Linked DNA regions of Homo sapiens: region 2 is linked to region 1. Evidence: fine-mapped expression QTL. A gene starts in region 1. The other region holds a variant in brackets. All regions are shown on one strand. Distances are between the middles of the regions. Region 1 holds the start of LINC03019 (long intergenic non-protein coding RNA 3019). Region 2 overlaps LINC03019 (long intergenic non-protein coding RNA 3019).

Region 1 (9,982 bases):
CCTGTAGTCCCAGCTACTCGGGAGGCTGAGGCAGGAGAATGGCATGCACCCGGGAGGCGGAGCTTGCAGTGAGCCGAGATCGTGCCACTGCACTCCAGCCTGGGCGACAGAGCGAGACGAGACTCTGTCTCAAACAAACAAACAAACAAACAAACAAACAAACAAAAAAAACATTAGCCGGGCATGGTGGTGCACTCCTGTGGACCCAGCTACTCGGGAAGCTGAGGTGGGAGGATTGCCTGAGCCCAGGAGGCTGAGGCTGCAGTGAGCCGTGATTGTGCCACTGCACTCCAGCCTGGGTGACAGGAGTGAGACTCTGTCTGAAAACAAAACAAAACAAAAACAAAAAACCAAACTCAGCAGTGAAATCTACAAATCTGCCTTTGCCTTCCCCAAACTTTATTTTCCATAGTCTCGCATATGTGTGACTCTCTCTCAGTTATCCTATCAAAATTCTTTGGTTTTAGTTTCTTCTTGAAACAATTAATTTGGGCTAGAGTCAACAGAACACCAGAGCTACTTGGAAAACAACAAATTAATCTCATAATTACCATAGAAAACATTAAAACCAGAAAAAATATATTAAGAATATGCCTATAGAAGTTTATTTTTTATTATTATTATTATTATTATTATACTTTAAGTTTTAGGGTACATGTGCACAATGTGCAGGTTAGTTACATATGTATACATGTGCCATGCTGGTGTGCTGCACCCATTAACTCGTTATTTAGCATTAGGTATATCTCCTAATGCTATGACAAACCCACAGCCAATATCATACTGAATGGGCAAAAACTGGAAGCATTCCCTTTGAAAACTGGCACAAGACAGGGATGCCCTCTCTCACCACTCCTATTCAACATAGTGTTGGAAGTTCTGGCCAGGGCAATTAGGCAGGAGAAGGAAATAAAGGGTATTCAATTAGGAAAAGAGGAAGTCAAATTGTCCCTGTTTGCAGACGACATGATTGTATATCTAGAAAACCCCATTGTCTCAGCCCAAAATCTCCTTAAGCTGATAAGCAACTTCAGCAAAGTCTCAGGATACAAAATCAATGTACAAAAATCACAAGCATTCTTATACACCAATAACAGACAAACAGAGAACCAAATCATGAGTGAACTCCCATTCACAATTGCTTCAAAGAGAATAAAATACTTAGGAATCCAACTTACAAGGGACGTGAAGGACCTCTTCAAGGAGAACTGCAAACCACTGCTCAATGAAATAAAAGAGGATACGAACAAATGGAAGAACATTCCATGCTCATGGCTAGGAAGAATCAATATCGTGAAAATGGCCATACTGCCCAAGGTAATTTATAGATTCAATGCCATCCCCATCAAGCTACCAATGACTTTCTTCACAGAATTGGAAAAAACTACTTTAAAGTTCATATGGAACCGAAAAAGAGCCCGCATGGCCAAGTCAATCCTAAGCCAAAAGAACAAAGCTGGAGGCATCACGCTACCTGACTTCAAACTACACTACAAGGCTACAGTAACCAAAACAGCATGGTACTGGTACCAAAACAGAGATATAGATCAATGGAACAGAACAGAGCCCTCAGAAATAACACCGCATGTCTACAACTATCTGATCTCTGACAAACCTGAGAAAAACAAGCAATGGGGAAAGGATTCCCTATTTAATAAATGGTGCTGGGAAAACTAGCTAGCCATAAGTAGAAAGCTGAAACTGGATCCCTTCCTTACACCTTATACAAAAATTAATTCAAGATGGATTAAAGACTTAAACGTTAGACCTAAAACCATAAAAACCCTAGAAGAAAACCTAGGCATTACCATTCAGGACATAGGCATGGGCAAGGGCTTCATGTCTAAAACACCAAAAGCAATGGCAACAAAAGCCAAAATTGACAAATGGGACCTAATTAAACTAAAGAGCTTCTGCACAGCAAAAGAAACTACCATCAGAGTGAACAGGCAACCTACACAATGGGAGAAAATTTTTGCAACCTACTCATCTGACAAAGGGCTAATATCCAGAATCTACAATGAACTCAAACAAATTTACAAGAAAAAACAAACAACCCCACCAAAAAGTGGGCAAAGGATATGAACAGACACTTCTCAAAAGAAGACATTTATGCAGCCAAAAGACACATGAAAAAATGCTCACCATCACTGGCCATCAGAGAAATGCAAATCAAAACCACAATGAGATACCATCTCACACCAGTTAGAATGGCGATCATTAAAAAGTAAGGAAACAACAGGTGCTGGAGAGGATGTGGAGAAATAGGAACACTTTTACACTGTTGGTGGGACTGTAAACTAGTTCAACCATTGTGGAACTCAGTGTGGCGATTCCTCAGGGATCTAGAACTAGAAATACCATTTGACCCAGCCATCCCATTACTGGGTATATACCCAAAGGACTATAAATCATGCTGCTATAAAGACACATGCTCACGTATGTTTATTGCGGCACTATTCACAATAGCAAAGACTTGGAACCAAGCCAAATGTCCAACAATGATAGACTGGATTAAGAAAATGTGGCACATATACACCATGGAATACTATGCAGCCATAAACAATGGTGAGTTCATGTCCTTTATAGGGACATGGATGAAATTGGAAATCGTTCTCAGTAAACTATCGCAAGGACAAAAAACCAAACACCAGATGTTCTCACTCATAGATGAGAATTGAACTATGAGAACACATGGGCACAGGAAGGGGAACATCACACTCTGGGGACTGTTGTGGGGTGGGGGGAGGGGGGAGGGATATGCCTGTAGAAGTTTAGAAATATTTTCTGTAATAAAAAGAATGACGTTTATATCCTACGGCATAGTATACCCAGAAGGAGGCAAAAACGCTATTGAACAGTGAGAAAGAACATTGCATATTCTCATTTTCAGCGGGAAAGAAAAGCTTTATCAGAGGCAGGCTGTTTTAAGGATTAATGTTCCCAGATGGAGATAAATCTTAACTATTGAAATAGTGTTTTCTCAGATCTAGTTTAAAAAGTGTTCGCTTCTGGAAATCTCTTACTTGTTCCTTTGTTTATAATTATTTTGAACATTTGCTTTCTGTTATCTGTGAAGAGATTTGAAAAGAGCAGGTCTTTTGGATGGTTGCTTTAGGAGTGACCTCCCTTGGCTTAAACAGGCATTTGTTGGATAACATCTCTGCATGATTTTTAAAAGTTAGCAGAAGTGAGAAGGGTAATTGAAGTTTCCAGAATCAAGAAAAACTACAAAAGAAGCTCATTTTTATAAATGCTATTGTCTTATATAACCCCCTGGAAGACACCCAGTTCTCACTTCTAAGAGCTCTCATGAGTCAGTTTGTCATTTGATATTTTGTAGAGTTTGCAGTAAATTAGAAGACGTGAATTCTTCTGCTTAACTTCAATGACAAACTATTTTGTACTTTAGTTCCTTAAGAAACTAAATAGAGGGAACCTTTTTTATCTCTTTCCTATCTATGTCCAACCTACTCCCAACTTCTAGAACAGTTTCTTGCATGTAGTGAGTGCCCCATAATTGTAGAATTAAATCGAATTTGGGCAATTTTTCCTTCTTTTGAAAATGAAACTAAAAAAATATGAAGCCAGGAAGTTTTACCAGTCTTCCCCACAACCACCCACAGACATCAGGCTCTCAAGCATCTGCCTTTCCTGGGCTGGGGAATGAGTATCCTGTCTTCCCTCCCCTTCCTTCTTCTCCCTTTGCTCTTCCTGCTCCTACCTCCTCCTCTTTCTCCCCTACCCGCTCCTGTTCCTTCCCTTTCTCCTCTTCCATAACCTAGAAGTTTCTAACCAAGAAATCTATACACACAAAGAACAACTGCCAATGGGAAAACAAAATATCACTTCATTAAGAGCTAGGCAAGGACTCAATCATCCCAATGCAACGCTCTCTAGCAAGAGGAATTTGGATAATAAAGTTGAAGTAAGGAAGCCTAAGTCCCTGTGCCTGACTCTAAGATTATCAGGAAGCCCACTTATGCTCCAAAACACATCAAAAACGATATAAGAAGGCCGGGCATGGTGGCTCATGCCTGTAACCCCAGTACTTTGGGAGGCTGAGGTAGGCAGATCACTTGAGATCAGGAGTTTTAGACTAGCCTGGCCAATACAGTGAAACACTGTCTCTACTAAAAATACAAAAATTAGCCGGGCGTGGTGGTGCATGCCTGTAATCCCAGCTACTCAGGAGACTGAGGCATGAGAATTGCTTGACCCCAGAAGGTGGAGGTTGCAGTGATTGTGTCAAGATTGTGCCACTGCAGACTGGCCTGGACAAGACAGTGAGAATCTGCCTCAAAACAAACAAACAAACAAAAAAAAAACATGTAAGAAGATCTTACAGCAAGTCAGCAGGGTCCACCAAGGTCTTTGGCCAGAAGCTGAGAGTTTACCATGTGGACACAGGAAACAGCAGTAGAGTGACTCGGGTGGGTTTGTCCTTAACCACTCAGGAATTTCAGCAATTCCGACCATGGGTAAAACCCAGTGCAGTGACACTCTCATGTTCTCACCGACCAGGAAACCACTTACTCTGCTTTGGGGAGGAGTTAGTGCAGGACTGGGCGTGGGCAGAAGAATGGACACATTTTGCTTCCCTCATGGACCGAGGTGGGAAGTGGGAAGGGGAGACTAAATGTTCCTGGACAGGAAAGCATAAATCCAGAGTTGGAACGTGAGTTTATGATCTTACTCTATTTCTATTTTACAGAGGAAACCAGTCGACAGAGCTGTGATTTGCCCTGTGATTTGCCCTGGGCCTTCCCACAATTCTAGAAACCCATGACTTGACATCATTGCGCGGCCACCTGACTCCCAGCTGGCTTCAGCCTCTCCGTTTCATCTCCCTCTACTCTCACTCTGCTGCTACCAAGTCAGACTTCTTTTCAGGTCCTTAAACAATCTCTGTACTTTTCCATCTCCGTGTCTTTGATGACTTGATTCCCTTTCCTCACTCCATCATTAACATACGTACCCCTCAAGACCCAGCTCAGATGCCACTTCTATGAGACACTCTGTTTCTGTGCCAGAAACAGTTAAGCCTTTATTTGCGTGTCCAAAGTGTGCCCCAGAGCAAGGATCTGGCAATCGGCATTTGAAACCTGGCTCCTTGGCTTCTTAGCTCTGACCTTGAGCAAATTACTTATTTTTTTGTTGTTGTTACTCAGTTTCCTAAAATATCATATAGGGACTTGTCATGTCATGTTAATGGACATAATATAAATTAAATAGTATAATGGCAAGTATCCATCGGTCACCAAAAAGGGAGCCTACTATTACTGCCTGTAGCTATATTTTAGCATTGATGACAAAATATGGTAAATTATATCTATTTGTAGACCTAAGTTATCCCTTCCCATTGATTATTCACTTGCTGAGACTGCAACAATAGCTGCCCATTTTTTTATCTCTTCCATCCCCACCCAGCTGTCTTGCACAATATACAAAGTCAATACATGTCTGATCAACGGAATGGACTTAATCTGCCAAAACAGACCTGACTCTCTATCAGTGATACAGGAGCTAAAAAGAAATTATTTAGGCAGAGAGTGAGAGTAAGGGAGTCCTTGGCAAGGCTTCCCTTTTAACAAAAAGCAGCCCCCAGATAATTTCTTTTCTAACAAAAAGCAGCCTGTAAAATCAAGCTGCAGACATAGATAACCAAGCTGGAAGCTTGCACAGGTGAATGACGGCGGCTGTGCATTGCAATAGGGGAAGCCTACCTGGGGGCCAGGTAGGTTCAACATGGAGGCTCCATCTTCGCTTTTCTTTGTCACCATGTGTACAGTAAAGAAACAGGCAACATGGCGCTGGCCAGGTAGAGAACCAACTGCATAATTAAAGATTAGGGTGGGGTGGCCAGCTATGCAAATGGCACACCTGGTCTCACCAATCTCTCATGCCCTATATAAATCAGACACCGCCTCCTCAAGCTCATCTATAAAATCTTATGCACTTGGCTGTGAACCGGAACACCTGCTGGGGTGCCCCTCTCTCTCTCTGCAGGAGAGAGAACTCTTCCTTTTCTTTCGCCAATTAAACCTCCACTCTTAACCTCACTGTTTGTGTGTCTGCGTCCTTGATTCCCTTGGCGCAAGGCAACAAACGTTGGGTATTACAGACCAATGATGCCGCTTCACCAGCTCATATATGGCAAAAACTGCAATAAGTTTTGCACCAACCCTAATGCTAAATTATTAATTACTACTTACCTAAAAAAGAGAACCATATAAATTAATTAGTATTGTACAACACTACATGTATTTAGTCAAAATACCAGATAACCTAACTTTATATTTATGTATACATCACATGTATTTTTAAAATTAATTCTTCACTTTAGTGAAGTATTATAAACTGTTAATCATTCATCCTAACTTTTGCTTAGCCTTTGAAGTTCAGACCTCTCCAAAATTTTTTCCTCCACCTGGTTAAGAACTATTTTCTTTGGACTTAATCTGGTTTTTCTATTGTAGATCACATCTAATCAAGGTAGTTGAATAGACTCAACAAACCAGTAAGAGGTTGTTGAAGTATCATTCATAACAAAAGGTAACAACAGTTCCTTATAGGCCATATCTCATGCCTTCTGTTTTACTGGTGCAAGTTTGTGCCCCAGGAGGGTTAGGAATGGCATCTAACACCCCCGTGGAGCAGACAGACCCCTTTTGTAAGTGTGTATTTGTTTCAACCACATGCCTTAAGCTCAGTTTAAAAAAATAAAATTAAAAAAAATTTATGTGAGTACAGAAAGTTTGCATCACATTCACTCTACAACATCTTTAAAGGCAGCGATTATTCCAGAACACAGAGGAGACAAACAAGGCCCCTTTGTTCCAGGAGTGCACTCCTTAAAGAGCAGTTCCAAGCCCATCAGTCTGAAGGGCCAGGCAGTTGGCCCCGGGGGAGCCTGCCAAACACCCAGAGATGCTTCCCGGGAATCTTCTGCTGCTGCTGAAGTGTTGACAGGCTCTTGAGCTGAGAGCTCAGGCTGTTGATAGGAATATATAGCTCAGATAGTCAGAAATCAACCTACTCAAATTTCTCAGACCATTCTCTCCTTCGTTTCTGTCTTTTTAACAATCCAAGTACAGATTTTCTTTTAAAAACCTTCTTCCAAAAAAATGTCTACGTTCCTGCTTCCTCCTGGGGGTAACGAAATAAAAGGCTTAAGGTGCTTTAAGGAAAATGGAGTCAGTTCCCCTCCCTTCAGCCCTCAAGTTCTGCTGATTCCAAGGGGTGGGTGGCGAGGGCCAGCAGTTGGCGGCACCCACTCCCTGTCTCCTCTCACTTGGTATCTCCCTGGCCTCACGCTCAATCAGGTCTTCCGTGACCACACAGGGAAATGAAGAATACTGTTCGCTTACGAAGAATCTGGGAATCCCTGCAGTCCATGATTTTCTTTTTTCTATTTTACTTTCTTCTCAAAAGCCTTTTATTTTCTAAAAGCACATACAGTATAAGCCCATTCTGATGATTTTAGGAGCATCCATTCCTCAATGCAAAGATATTAATGCTAGATAATAAAGCTCTGAGTTCATACATTTAAAAGTCGAGAGAGTGAGGAGTGAGGGGAGAGAGAGGGAGCAGAAAACGCTAGCTGCCTTAATACTCATTTTCCTCTTCTACAAACCCTTGATATTTAGCTAATGTACCCTACCTTTCTCAAGGTCCCCAGCAGCTAAGGAAGGCCATGTGACTAATTCTGGCCAATGGGATGTAAGAAATTCAAAGTGCATTTCACAGAGCATGTTAGGAACACGCCCATTCTTCCAGCCCTTCCTCAACCCTGGTGTTCGTACCAGGGACTTGGTGTCAAAGGCAACGTCCCAGAAGAAACCTCATGCAATGCAGTGACAATATCAGTCCTGGAAACCCTATCTCTGGACTCTGGGATAAAAGAGCAATACATTTCTATATTGTTTATACCACCGTTAATTTGAGTTTTAATTTTATTTCATGAACCCAGTCATATTTTAAGCCAAGGTGGATTTCCCACAAAGCTAATGGAGCAGAAGCTTTAGAAACCCTCACTTGCGTCAGGCGTGGTGGCTCACGCCTGTAATCCCAGCACTTTGGGAGGCCGAGGCAGGTGGATCACCGGAGGTCAGGAGTTCAAGATCAGCCTGGCCAACATGGTGAAACCCCGCCTCTACAAAAATACAAAAATTGGGTTGGGCATGTTGGTGTGTGCCTGTAATCCTAGCTACTCGGGAGGCTGAGGCAGGAGAATTGCTTGAACCTGGGAGGCGGAGGTTGCAGTGAGACAAGACCACGCCATTGCACTCCATCCTGGGCAAAAAGAGCGAAACTCTGCCTTAAAAAAAAACAAAAAACAAACAAAAAAAACAAAACCCTCACTTGCCAGGATGACTCCAAAGCCTGAGGAGGAACCCCGACATTGGGGTCACATGGTCATCTTATATTCTTTTCTTTAAAAGGTTCCTCAACTGCATAAGCCTCACACCTCATCCATGATAAGCCAGTGAGTCTTTCCACGTGTGCCTCTTGAGTGGGGCAGCGCCATTCTGGTCAGCCCACCTTACATGTAGCACAGTAAATAGTTCACAGTTTCTCCTGCATCAGATCATCTACTTGGTGAAATTTAGGAATAGCACAGCCCATTGTTTCCCAAAGTACATTCCTAGATATTAATAATTGTTATAAGAGAAAAGAGTAACAGAAAAGTATAATATTAGCTAAGATGTTTTTGTCTATGTTTTTAACTACAATATTTCTCAGAGGAAGCAATGTGGGAATGTGCATAGTGAATATCCCAGCACAAGAGAAGGCTGTATTTCCTAAACGTATTGGACCACCAAACCCCCTTTTTAAGTAGTTGGTGGGTTATATTTTTGTGAAGCATGATTTGAAAGCACTCTCCTGGTCTCAGTAGCAAATATTTGTTGACTATCTCTTTGGGGAAGTTAAGTGTTTTATTTTTGTAGCATTAGTGGAAGAAGGTAATTTTTCTTCCTGATTTTATTGTTTATAATTGCTCCCTGTCTGGAGTTTGCTAATCAGTAAGCATTGATTTCAACAATATTGTCATTTCTGCATTGACACTGATGCATCTCTCAGGTCTCCAACAAAAGCTAAGAGTGACATGTACAAAATGTTAGATCACCTGTGGAGGAAAGGGTGTGAGTTCAAGGGAGTCGGAGTCACACTGAGGTTTCATCTCCTGTGAGGAAGATCTTTGATGGGGGGATACAGAAAGCTACAACCACGATGGAGACGTAGTTCTGCAGAAAGGACCCATTTCTGTGCTTATGTCAGTGCTTGGAGAAATCTCCAGGCTCATTTATGTGAGCCACATTTTCATTACAGGAAAATAATTGACACCATGCTTCTTGGCTTTAACTGAAATTTAAGCATTTACACCTGTATTCATCTTCTAGGGTTTCTACAAAAAAGTATCATAAACTGCATGGCTGCATGTACCCTACCTTTCTCAAGTTCCCCAGCAGCTAAGGAAGGCCATGTGACTGATTTTGGCAGAAATTTATTTTTTCACAGTGCTGGAGACTGGAAGTTCAAAGCCAAGGTGTCAGCAGTCCTTGCCTCCTCCTACCTTCTGGTGGTGGCCATTGATTCTTGGCATTTCTTGGCTTGCAACTGCACCACTTGAGTCTCTGCCTCTTTCCTCACATGGCATTTTCCTCTTACAGGGGTTAGGAATTCAACATACTTTTTGGAGGGGGCACAATTCAATCCATAGTAACACCAAAGACTCCTTAATTTTCTGTAGGGCAACATAATGTCATGATGGACAGAGCTCTGAGTTAGGAGTCCGAAGGCCTTAGTGGGCACTTAGCAAATCTCTAGGCTACATTTCTATATATATAAACAAGGATAACAATACACTCCTTGACTTCCCTGTAAGGGTTGTAACAAAGATATAGAAAAGTGCTCTGTAGCCTTTCAATGATGATAGAAGTGTTATTGTCTTCAAAGAGAAACATGGCTAATGTGGGTA
Region 2 (9,982 bases), 26 kb before region 1:
TGTCATTAGTGTTTTGATTGGGATTCCATTGAATCTGTAGATTGCTTTGCATAGTATGGTCATTTTAACAGTACTAACTCTTCCAATCCATGATTATGCTATGTCTTTCCATTTTTGTGTATGTATCCTCTTCAATTTCTTTATCAGTGTCTCTAAGTTTTCATTGTAGATGTATTTCACATTTATTCCTAGGTATTTTACTTTTCTCGTCATAAATGAGATTGCTTTCTTAATTTACTTTTCAGCCAGTTCATTCTTAGTGTGTAGAATTGTTGCTATTCTTTGCATGCTGACTTTGCAGCCTGCATCTTTACTAGATTTTTCTAACAGTTCTAAGAGTTTTTTGGTGGTGTCTTAGGTTTTCCTACATATAAGATCATGTTGTCTGCAAAGAAGGACAATTTTACTTCCTCTTTTTCAATCTGGATGCCCTTTATGTACTTTTTTTTTTTTTTTGCCTAAGTGCCGTGGCTAGGACTTACAGTACCATGTTGAATAACAGTAGTGAAAGGCAATTTTGTCTTGCCCTAGTTCTTAGAGGAAAGGCTTTCAGCCTTTCTGTATTGAGTATAGTAGCTGTGAGTTTGTCATATACGGCCTTTATTTTATTGAAGTATGTTCCTTCTATACATAACGTTTGTAGAGTTTTTATCATGAAAGATGTTGAATTTTATCAAATTATTTTTCTGCATTTATTGAGATTATCATACATTTTTTGTCCTTTATTCTGTTGAAGTGTAGAATTACAAGTACTGATTTGCATTTGTTGAACCATCTTCGCATCACTGGGATAAATCCTACTGGGTCATGATGTATAATCTCATTGTGTTGTTAGGTTCAGATTGTCAGTATTTTGTTGAGGATTTTTGCATCTATGTTTTCTTTATTTGTTGTGTCCTGGTCTGGTTTTGTTATCAGGGTAGTGGTGGCCTCATAAAATGAGTTAGGAAGAATTCCCTCTTCTTCAATTTTTTGAAATAGTTTGAAAAGAATTGTTGCTCATTCTTCTTTAAATGTTTGGTAGAATTTAGCAGTAAAGCCATCTGGTCCTGGGCTTTTCTTTGTTAGGAGGCATTTTACTACTGATTCAACCTTGTTACTTTGGTCTGTTATTGGTGTGTTCAGGTTTTCTGTTTCTTCCTAGTTCTATCTTGGTAGGTTATGTCTGTCCAGGAATTTATCAATTTTTTTCTGAAATTTCCTAAATTTGATAGGATTTCTATTTTTTATATTTGTTGAGATTTGTTTTGTGGCATAAAATATGATCTATCCTAGAGAATGTTTCATGTGCTGATGAGAAGAATGCATATTCTATAACTGTTGGATACAATGTTCTGTAGATGTCTGTTTGGTCATTTAGTCTATAGTGCAGCTTAATTCTATGTTTCTTGATCGATTTTCTGCTTACATGACCTGTCCAATGATGAAAGTGGGATATTAAAGTCCCCAACTATTATTGTATTGGTAAGTATCTCTCTTTATCTCTAATAATGTTTGCTTTTAATATGTAGGTGATCCTGTGTTGGGTGCATATTCATTTACAATTGTTATATCCTCTTGCTGAATTGATCCCTTTATCATAACGTAATGATTTTCTTTGTCTCTTTCTATTTATTTTTTTGACTTATAGTCTATTTAGTCTGATATAAGTTTAGGTGCTCCCACACACTTTTGGTTTCCGTTTGTGTGGAATACCTTTTTCTAACCCTTTACTTTCAGTCTGTGTGTGTCTTTACAGGTGAAGTGCATTTCTTGTATATAGGTGGGTCTTCCGTTTTTAAATCCATTCAGTGAGTCTGTATCTCTTAAATAGGAGATTTAAATGGTCTACATTCATGATTGTTATTGATAGGTGAGGACTTACTCCTGTTATTTGGTTAGTTGATTTCTCATTGTCTCATATATCCTTTGTGGCCTTTTTCCTCACTTGTTTATCTTTGCAACTTGGTGGTTTTCTGTAGTGATAACCTTTTATTCCTTTCTCCTTCTCACTTGTGTATCTGTTCTACCAGTGAGTTTTATGCTTTCATGTTTTTTTTTTTTTTTTTTTTTTTTTTGATGGTAGATACCATCTTTTAGCTTCTGTTTGTAGGACTTCCTTAAGCATCTGTTATAGGGCTAGTCTAGTGGTGATAAATTCCCTCACATTTTGCTTCTCTGGCAAAGACTTCATTTGTAGCTTTATTCCTGAATTATGGCTTTGCTCAGTTTGGTGTTCTTGACTAGCAGTTTTCTTCTTTCAGCACTTTGAGTCTATCATCCCATTTTCTCTGGCCTGTAAGGTTTCTGCTGAGAAATCTGATATTAGTCTGATGGGGATTCCCTTATGTGTGACTTGATGCTTTTTTACTTGCTATTTTTAGAATTCTCTCTCTACTTTTTGACGTTTGACAATTTGACAATAATGTGCCTTGGAGATGACATTTTTGGGTTAAATCTATTTGGGAATGTTTAAACTTCCTCTATCTGCATTTCTATAACTCTTCCAAGACTTCAGAAGTTTTCTGCTATTTTTTAATTAAATAGGCTTTTTATGCCTTTTCTCATCTTTTCTACTTCTGGAGCGCTCATAATTTGAATATTTGTTCCCTTGATGTTGTCCTATATGTCACATAGGCTTTCTTTATTCCTTTTTATTCTTTTTGTTTATTTGTTTGACTGGGTTATTTTAAAAGACCTGTCTTCAAGTACAGAAATTCTTTCTTCTGCTTGATCTAGTTTAATACTGAAGCATTCAATTATATTTTTTATTTTATCATCAAATTCTTCAGTTCTAGGATTTCTGTTTGGTTCTTTTTAATAATATCTATCTGATATGGTCTGGATCTGTGTCCTTACCCAAATCTCATGTCAAATTGTAATCCCCCATGCTAGAGGTAGGCCTGGTGGGAGGTGATTGGATCATGGGGACAGTTTCTCATGGTTTAACACCATCCCCTTTGGTACTGTCATGATGAGAGTGGGTTATCACAAGATCTGGTTGTTTAAAAGTGTGTAGTATCTCCCCCTTTCTTCCTCCTGCTCCAGACATGCGAAGTGCTTGCTCCCCCTTTGCCTTCTGCCATATTTGTAAGTTTCCTGAGGCCTCCCCAAAGGCCAAGCAGATGCCACCATTATGTATCCTATACAGCCTGTGGAGCTGTGAGCCAATTAAATTTCTTTTCTTTATCAATTACCCAGTCTCAGGTATTTCTTTGTAGCAGCACAAGAATGGACTAATACACTATCTCTTTGAATTTTTCCATTCCCATTATGAATTCTTTTTTAAAATGTCTTTGTTTTGTTTGTATTCTTATGCCTCACTGTTTCCTTAAGAAAATAATATTTTAATCATTAATATTATCTATCAATTCATTAATAATTATATTTTCATTAACATCAATACTATTTTATTATTAATACAACTATATTAATAATATTTTGAAATCCTTTTTAAGAATTTTATGTTTTTTTTCTTTAGGATCTGTCACTGGATAAGTACTATGTTCCTTTGGTGGTGTCATGTTCCTGGCTTGTTCATGTTTTTTGTGTACATACACTGATATCTACACATCTGGTGTAACAGTCACTTCTTCCAGTTTTATGCAGTAGTTTTCACAGTGAAAGACTTTTTCCTGCAGACATATCTATACTGTCAGTTGGGTAGAGCACATTAGGTTTGGTTGCAGTGGGTGTCATAGTGTAGTTCCTATATGATTTCTTTGACTGTATCATTGTCAGTGGTGTCTGTGAGTTTCTTAGTAGCTTAGGTTACAGTTGTTTATGAAGGCTGTGGTGAGACTTTTCTGGAGCCTGGGGTGCTAGATGGGCTGGTTCTCAGGACCCTGGATTGTGCACATGAGCACAGACTATGGCATCAGTGAGCCCTGGTAAGGATCATTTCCAGGGTCCATTAGCAGCACGTGCAGGTGCCAGTGGTGGATTGGCTTTTGAGTCTCTCGGAGGCACACTCGGGTCTGTGGCAGCCCTGCTGCTGGAGGGGGCAAGGTAATTGGTGGTGGTGGCAGCCCCTGGCAGGTGATTCTCAGGCTTTGGGGAGTACAAGCTTCAGCTCCATAAATCCTAGGGGCAGCCTCCCTAATATGCAAGACCACCTGTTTCCCAGAGTGTAGGGCACTGTGGGGGCTTGGGTCTCTGGCATGCAGTCACACTGCTGGGTCCAGCTGGTGTCATGATGCTGCAGCCCTCTAAGTGGATATGAGGGGAATGTTGGCTGGGCCTCAGGGATGTGGAAATGTAGGAGTTCTTGGACCCCAGGGCAGGATGTAGCCTGGTGTTTGTTCCATTCTTAAAATGGTGTCATGTGGCAGCAGCCTGTGTTCTGTAGGGTGAGTGGAACCCAGTGTGAATTCCCTCTTCAGGACAATGTAATCACATGGACTCAAAGCAGCTCCCTTTACTAAGCACTGGGCTTTTGAGGCCCGAGTGGCTTTCCTGTCACTACGATTGCAGGTGTGTGTTATGGGAATGTGGACTGTTGGAGATCTCTTGCAAAGGGAATCCTCACAATGGGGAACCCCTCCTGGCTCTGGCCAGCTGCTCTGCTGCCCTCTCTAGGCTATCATCTTGAGTTTCCCTCCTCAGAGGGTCCTTGTCACTTCCCTGCTGAATTCTAGTGTTCTCCCTTACATACTCTATTCAGCATACTCTACTCACCATTTTGGTCCTTCTTTGAAGAGGAGATTAGTGCCGGACACCTCTAGTCAACTGTCTTAATCACATAGGGTGGTATTGTTCTGCCTTTTATATTCTTGCAGAAAGTGGTATATGATGCTGGGCTCAGTGGGTCACACCTGTAATCCTAGCAATTTGGGGGGGCCAAGGTGGGAGGATTGCTTGAGCACAGGAGTTCAAGGGCAGCCTGGGCAACATGGTGAAACCCTGTCTCTACAAAAAATACAAAAATTAGCCAGGTATAGGTGGCATGCCCCTGTAGCCCAGCTACTTGGGAGACTAAGGTGGGAGGACGGCTTGAGCCCAGGAGGTAGAGGTTGCAGTGAGTTGAAATTGTGACACTGCACTCCAGCCTGGGCAACAGAGCAAGGCTCTGTCTCAAAAAAAAAAAAGTGGTATAGGGAAGAGAACTATTTGCACCTCTATTAGGCATTCATAGTCTTTTGATTCTTAATAGGAATTGACCATATGACAGAACCTACAAACTCAAAATTAGTTATTGATGCTTATATGGCACCTGTATTTTAATTTTAATACCATGGCTAAAACGAAAGTGAGCAGGAGGGATCCCCAGGTGTAGAAGATAAATCTTGAGTATTTAGAAAAAAATTCTTTTGGGCTTCTTTTGTAGTGATTTTAAACCATTTTTATTTATGTTGGTGCCAAGTCTTACTACCTAGTAAAAAGCAAATTGCCCCACCCAGGCCTATTGAATCAGAACCCTTGTTTCAACAAGGCCTCCAGGTGATTCTGATAAATACTAACATTTGGAAACAA[T/C]TGCCATAAAGACTAGCACAATAAGTATCCTCAGAGCACTGGTATTATCTTTGGATTCTCACAACAGTGGTCGATTCTGACATTTAAGTATCTTCTGATCAAATAGTTTTAACATTAAGTGTGCCAATATTAAAAAAAAAATCATATCTCTGAAAACAATTTTCTAAATTCAATCAGTTCAAACATAGAAAAAACTTCACAGAACAGACTAAATCATTACATTGTTCTTTAAAGAAAACATGCAAAACGCCAACACAAGAAATGTATGAAAGTGAAGGGTTCTGGTTGAGTGATGGTGGGAGACCTTAAGTCTTACATCTTGACAAACTCTACTCCTGGACCTAAATTTGGACCCTTCTTTGTCTCTGTGACAGCCTCTGGGATGCCTCTCTGGAGGTTCCACAAGATGCACTTTGAAAATCATTAACTCTTGGATTAGTCACCTGACCCTTAATTATATACTGCCTTGGCCTTGTATCTTCTTATAGTTTCGTTCTGTGTTGTTTTATTATTGCCTTTGATTACTTACTTTTTGCATGCTTGTGGTCTGAGCCCCTTCATGTAGGAGACAGGAAAAAAAGCCACAAAGCCCTGAATGTCTTATGAATTGTAAACAGGTACAGATAGCAGTCATATAATCAACCAATATAGCCAGCAAGCTAGACAGGAACTACAGGCAGGGGCTCTGTGTGCAGTACATTTCCTGTATTTTCCATAGTTTCTCAACTATATGGAAGAAGGAATACAACTGGCATTAAGAAGACATACCCCAGAAAGATGATAGAGTTAACAGCTATTTATCTGGTTCTTGACTTCAATAAAAAATCAGTTAGGACCACTATTTTTCTCTTATGGACCCCATATTTAGGAAGATTTTCTCCATGAGAATAACTATAGTATGCTAAGTAATACATTAGTTTTCCCCATTTTACTTAATAGATCATGTATTCTCAGTGGAAGCAAAAATTGGTTCTTCTGGTATGAGTGAATACATCTTACTCTTTTTTTTTTTTCGAGAGTGAGTTTCACTCTTGTTGCCCAGGCTGGACTGCAAAGGCGCGATCTCGGCTCACTGCAATCTTCGCCTCCCGGGTTCAAGCCATTCTCCTGCCTCAGCCTCCCTAGTAGCTGGAATTACAGGTGCCCAACACCAGTCCCAGCTGATTTCTTGGATTTTTAGTAGAGATGGGGTTTCCTTATGTTGGCCAGGCTGGTCTCGAACTCCTGACCTCAGGCGATCCACCTGCCTCGACCTCCCAAAGTGCTGGGATTACATGCGTGAGCCACTGCGCTGGGCCCACCTTACTCTTTTATACATAAAGCACAGTGCATCTATTGTACTAAAATTTCAAGGCAGTCATTAAAAAAAAGTCTAAAAGAATTCTTAGGGGAAAAAGGTAATGATACACTCATATAAATGACTTCCAATTAGAACTTTTGATTTATATGAACTTACCAGTATTCTCACAGTGAGTTGGAATTTCAGTCAAAACAAAATAACATCATATTTCAGTCTGTGGGTAAATGTAATTGTTCATTCATCAGTGAACACTTTGCTTGCCAGTAGTGCTGAAAGCATGGAAGAAAAAAGAACAATTGAAAAACTACTGCAATAGTCCAAGTAAGAAATGGTGGAGACTGGACTAGGATGTTCAGATTTGAGATGTATTTTAAAATATGCCTTCTGAAAAAAATTCAAAACAGCTCAATGCCCTCATAATAAAGGATTCTACGTTGGGAAATACTGTATGATGCCAAAGTTCTAGGCCTTATTTCAGGGGGATCTTTGCCTGTTTGTACACATGTTCCAAAAAAATTCTTCCTGGCATCATCATTCTTTAGGCTGGCAGAGAAAAACAAATCAGCAAATCTCACATTTTCCTTTATGGGAAAATTTTGTTTGTAGTTGGACCTAATTTCTATTCGGGTAAGGAGTGGCTCTTATTCAAAGACAAGCTTTGTATATTTTGTTACACAAATGACCTTTATTTTTGAAGCTGTCAACAACATTTTCATAATTGCAAATGGTCTAGGTTGATTAACCTGCTATATTTTGCAGATTTTACAGTGCATTTGTATTTGCACTGCTAAAAAATTACATAATGAGCATCAATAAGTCTTCCCATGCAATTTTTAGCTCACTCCTGGCATTGATCAACTGTTATGCTTAGTGTGGTGTAAATTTCTTCCTGATAAACCCAACTTCGGCCCTGGGCTCTATTTTTCCAACGGCTATTAATCAACTTTGCCAGCTGCTTTAGATTCTTTTTGGAGATAGGATGTCATAAATAAGTAAAAGTAATCATTGTTTCATCCAGGAAGTAAAGAAGTGCAAGCTAGAATACGTGCAAGACAGCATGGTTGGGTCATATGTGTGCAGATGAGAAAAGACCAATTCTCCTCTGTGGTTACATGGGTCATATTGCCTGTATATCACTCTCTTCTGCAGTCTACCAAGCGTTATAAACAGCATGTGATCCATGGGTCTGCTATCAAAACAAATACATTTCACGAGATGTGAAGCGTCATTTAACTTGAGCAATGACTTGAGATTATTACTTAGGGTTTAGATGGAATGTTTTCTTAATGGGCCAACGTCTTTTGCAAAAAATAGGACTCACAGAGGAACACATAGCAAGACATTTTATTTATTTTTTTGAGATAGGGTGTCTGTTGCCCAGGCTGGAGTGCAGTGGCATGATCACAGGTCACTGCAGCCTCAACCTCCTGAGCTCAAGTGATCCTCCTACCTCAGCCCCCTGAGTAATCCCAGCCTCCTGAGCTGCATTGCCCTATGTTCTCCCCATGTTGCCCAGGCTGGTCTCGAACTCCTAAACTCAAGTGATCCTCCCCGCTCTGCCACTCAAAGTGCTAGGATTACAGGCGTGAACCATCGCACTGGCCCAACAAGTCTTTTTAAACAGAGACTTAAACTGGTTTCCTCATTCCTGAAGTCCAAATAAATTATATTGCTAAGTAATATGTATATAATATATGTTGAGGAAGTATTTGTACTCTATGTTAAAGATATCGTTTGCTATGTCTTTGTGTGAATTCAAATATATTTTAAAATATTTATAAAGGAAGAATAATTTGGCTCATCTTACACCTCAGATAGAAAAATTATCTGGCAGTCCTGAGACTGGGAATGGTTATAAAATGTTTAACAACCTACAGACCAGAAGATAAAAAGCTAAGAGGCAACTTACATTAAAAGTACTGCAGCGAGCACATCATAGGAAAAGAGCCGTGTCTCTCCCATTCTCCCTGGGAGTGTAAGGGACTGGAGATTTAGGGGACGAATTATGCATGTAAGGGTAAACTCACTTGAGCTCATGGTGCTCAAGAGAAAGTCTCCTGAACAGAAGCCAGCAGGGCAGTTTCTTCTTGCACGTAAAGAATTGTGGTGGATGCGATTATGTTTATGATCTTTGGGTAAGGACATGGAGTAAAGAAAGGTACAAGGGAAGATGGGATACTCCAAGATTTTGGTATACTCTTTGTATTAGTCTGTTCTCATGCTGCTGATCAAGACATACCCAAAACTGGGCAATTTACAAAGGAAAGAGTTTGGCTGGGTGAGGTGGCTCACACCTGTAATCCCAGCACTTTGGGAGGCCGAGGCGGGTGGATCACGAGGTCAGGAAATCGAGACCATCCTGGCTAACACGGTGAAACTCTGTTTCTACTAAAAATACAAAAAAATTAGGGCGTGGTGGCGGGTGCCTGTAGTCCCAGCTACTCGGGAGACTGAGGCAGGAAAATGGCGTGAACCCAGGAGGCGGAGCATGCAGTGAGCCGAGATCGCGCCACTGCACTCCAGCCTGGGTGACAGAGCGAGATTCTGCCTCAAAAAAAAAAAAGAGTTTTACTGGACTTACGGTTCCACATGACTGGGGAGGCCTCACAATCATGGCAGAAGGCAAGGAGGAGCAAGTCACATCTTAGGGGGATGGCAGCAGGCAAAGAGAGAGAGCTTGTGCAGAGAAACTCCTGTTTATAAAACCTTCAGATCTCCTGAGACCCATTCACTATCACGAGAACAGTACAGGAAATACCCAACCCCGTGATTCAATCATCTCCCACTGGGTCCCTTCCACAACAAGTGGAAATTATGGGAGCTACAAGATGAGATTTGGGTTGGGACACAGAGCCAAACCATATTACTCCTGTTATGGCAACTAAAAACAGAAGGCAAAATGCTTTCTGGCCACAAAAAGAACAAATCCCTAAATCTTAAGTTTTAACTGCATGTCTAGTACTTAAAATCATGTGAGGGGTTTTACATGGGATAGCCCTAGAATGTGTGGCGTGTAACTATTTTATTTACAAACGAAGTATTTGAATTAGGAAGCAATCACCATAATATTTCACAATAATGTAATATATGCATGGGTTGTAATTTAAGAATTTCAAAAGATATGTTAATAAGTAATCAAACCACCTCATAGTTCAAATTTTAAAATACAGTTTTCAAAAACTAAATAAAATAACCTTTTCTAAAGCAGCATGTGTTGGTAAAAAACAAAAT

The links. PIP is the estimated chance that this variant, and not a neighbour inherited with it, causes the effect.
Region 2: its variant is fine-mapped to the expression of LINC03019 in sun-exposed skin (GTEx, PIP above 0.99).

The regions. Positions count from the first base shown.
Region 1 is chr8:12,807,034-12,817,015 of GRCh38, forward strand. It overlaps LINC03019 (long intergenic non-protein coding RNA 3019), which reads right to left and starts at 4,445. Exons shown (of 5, transcript NR_152742.1): 1 at 4,347-4,445. All of the region lies in intron 1 of LINC00681 (long intergenic non-protein coding RNA 681), which reads left to right.
Region 2 is chr8:12,781,425-12,791,406 of GRCh38, forward strand. It overlaps LINC03019 (long intergenic non-protein coding RNA 3019), which reads right to left. Exons shown (of 5, transcript NR_152742.1): 2 at 6,908-7,020. Among named protein-coding and RNA genes, the nearest start is that of LINC00681, 7.8 kb to the right of the region's middle. The variant T/C (reference allele first, on the strand shown) is at 5,452.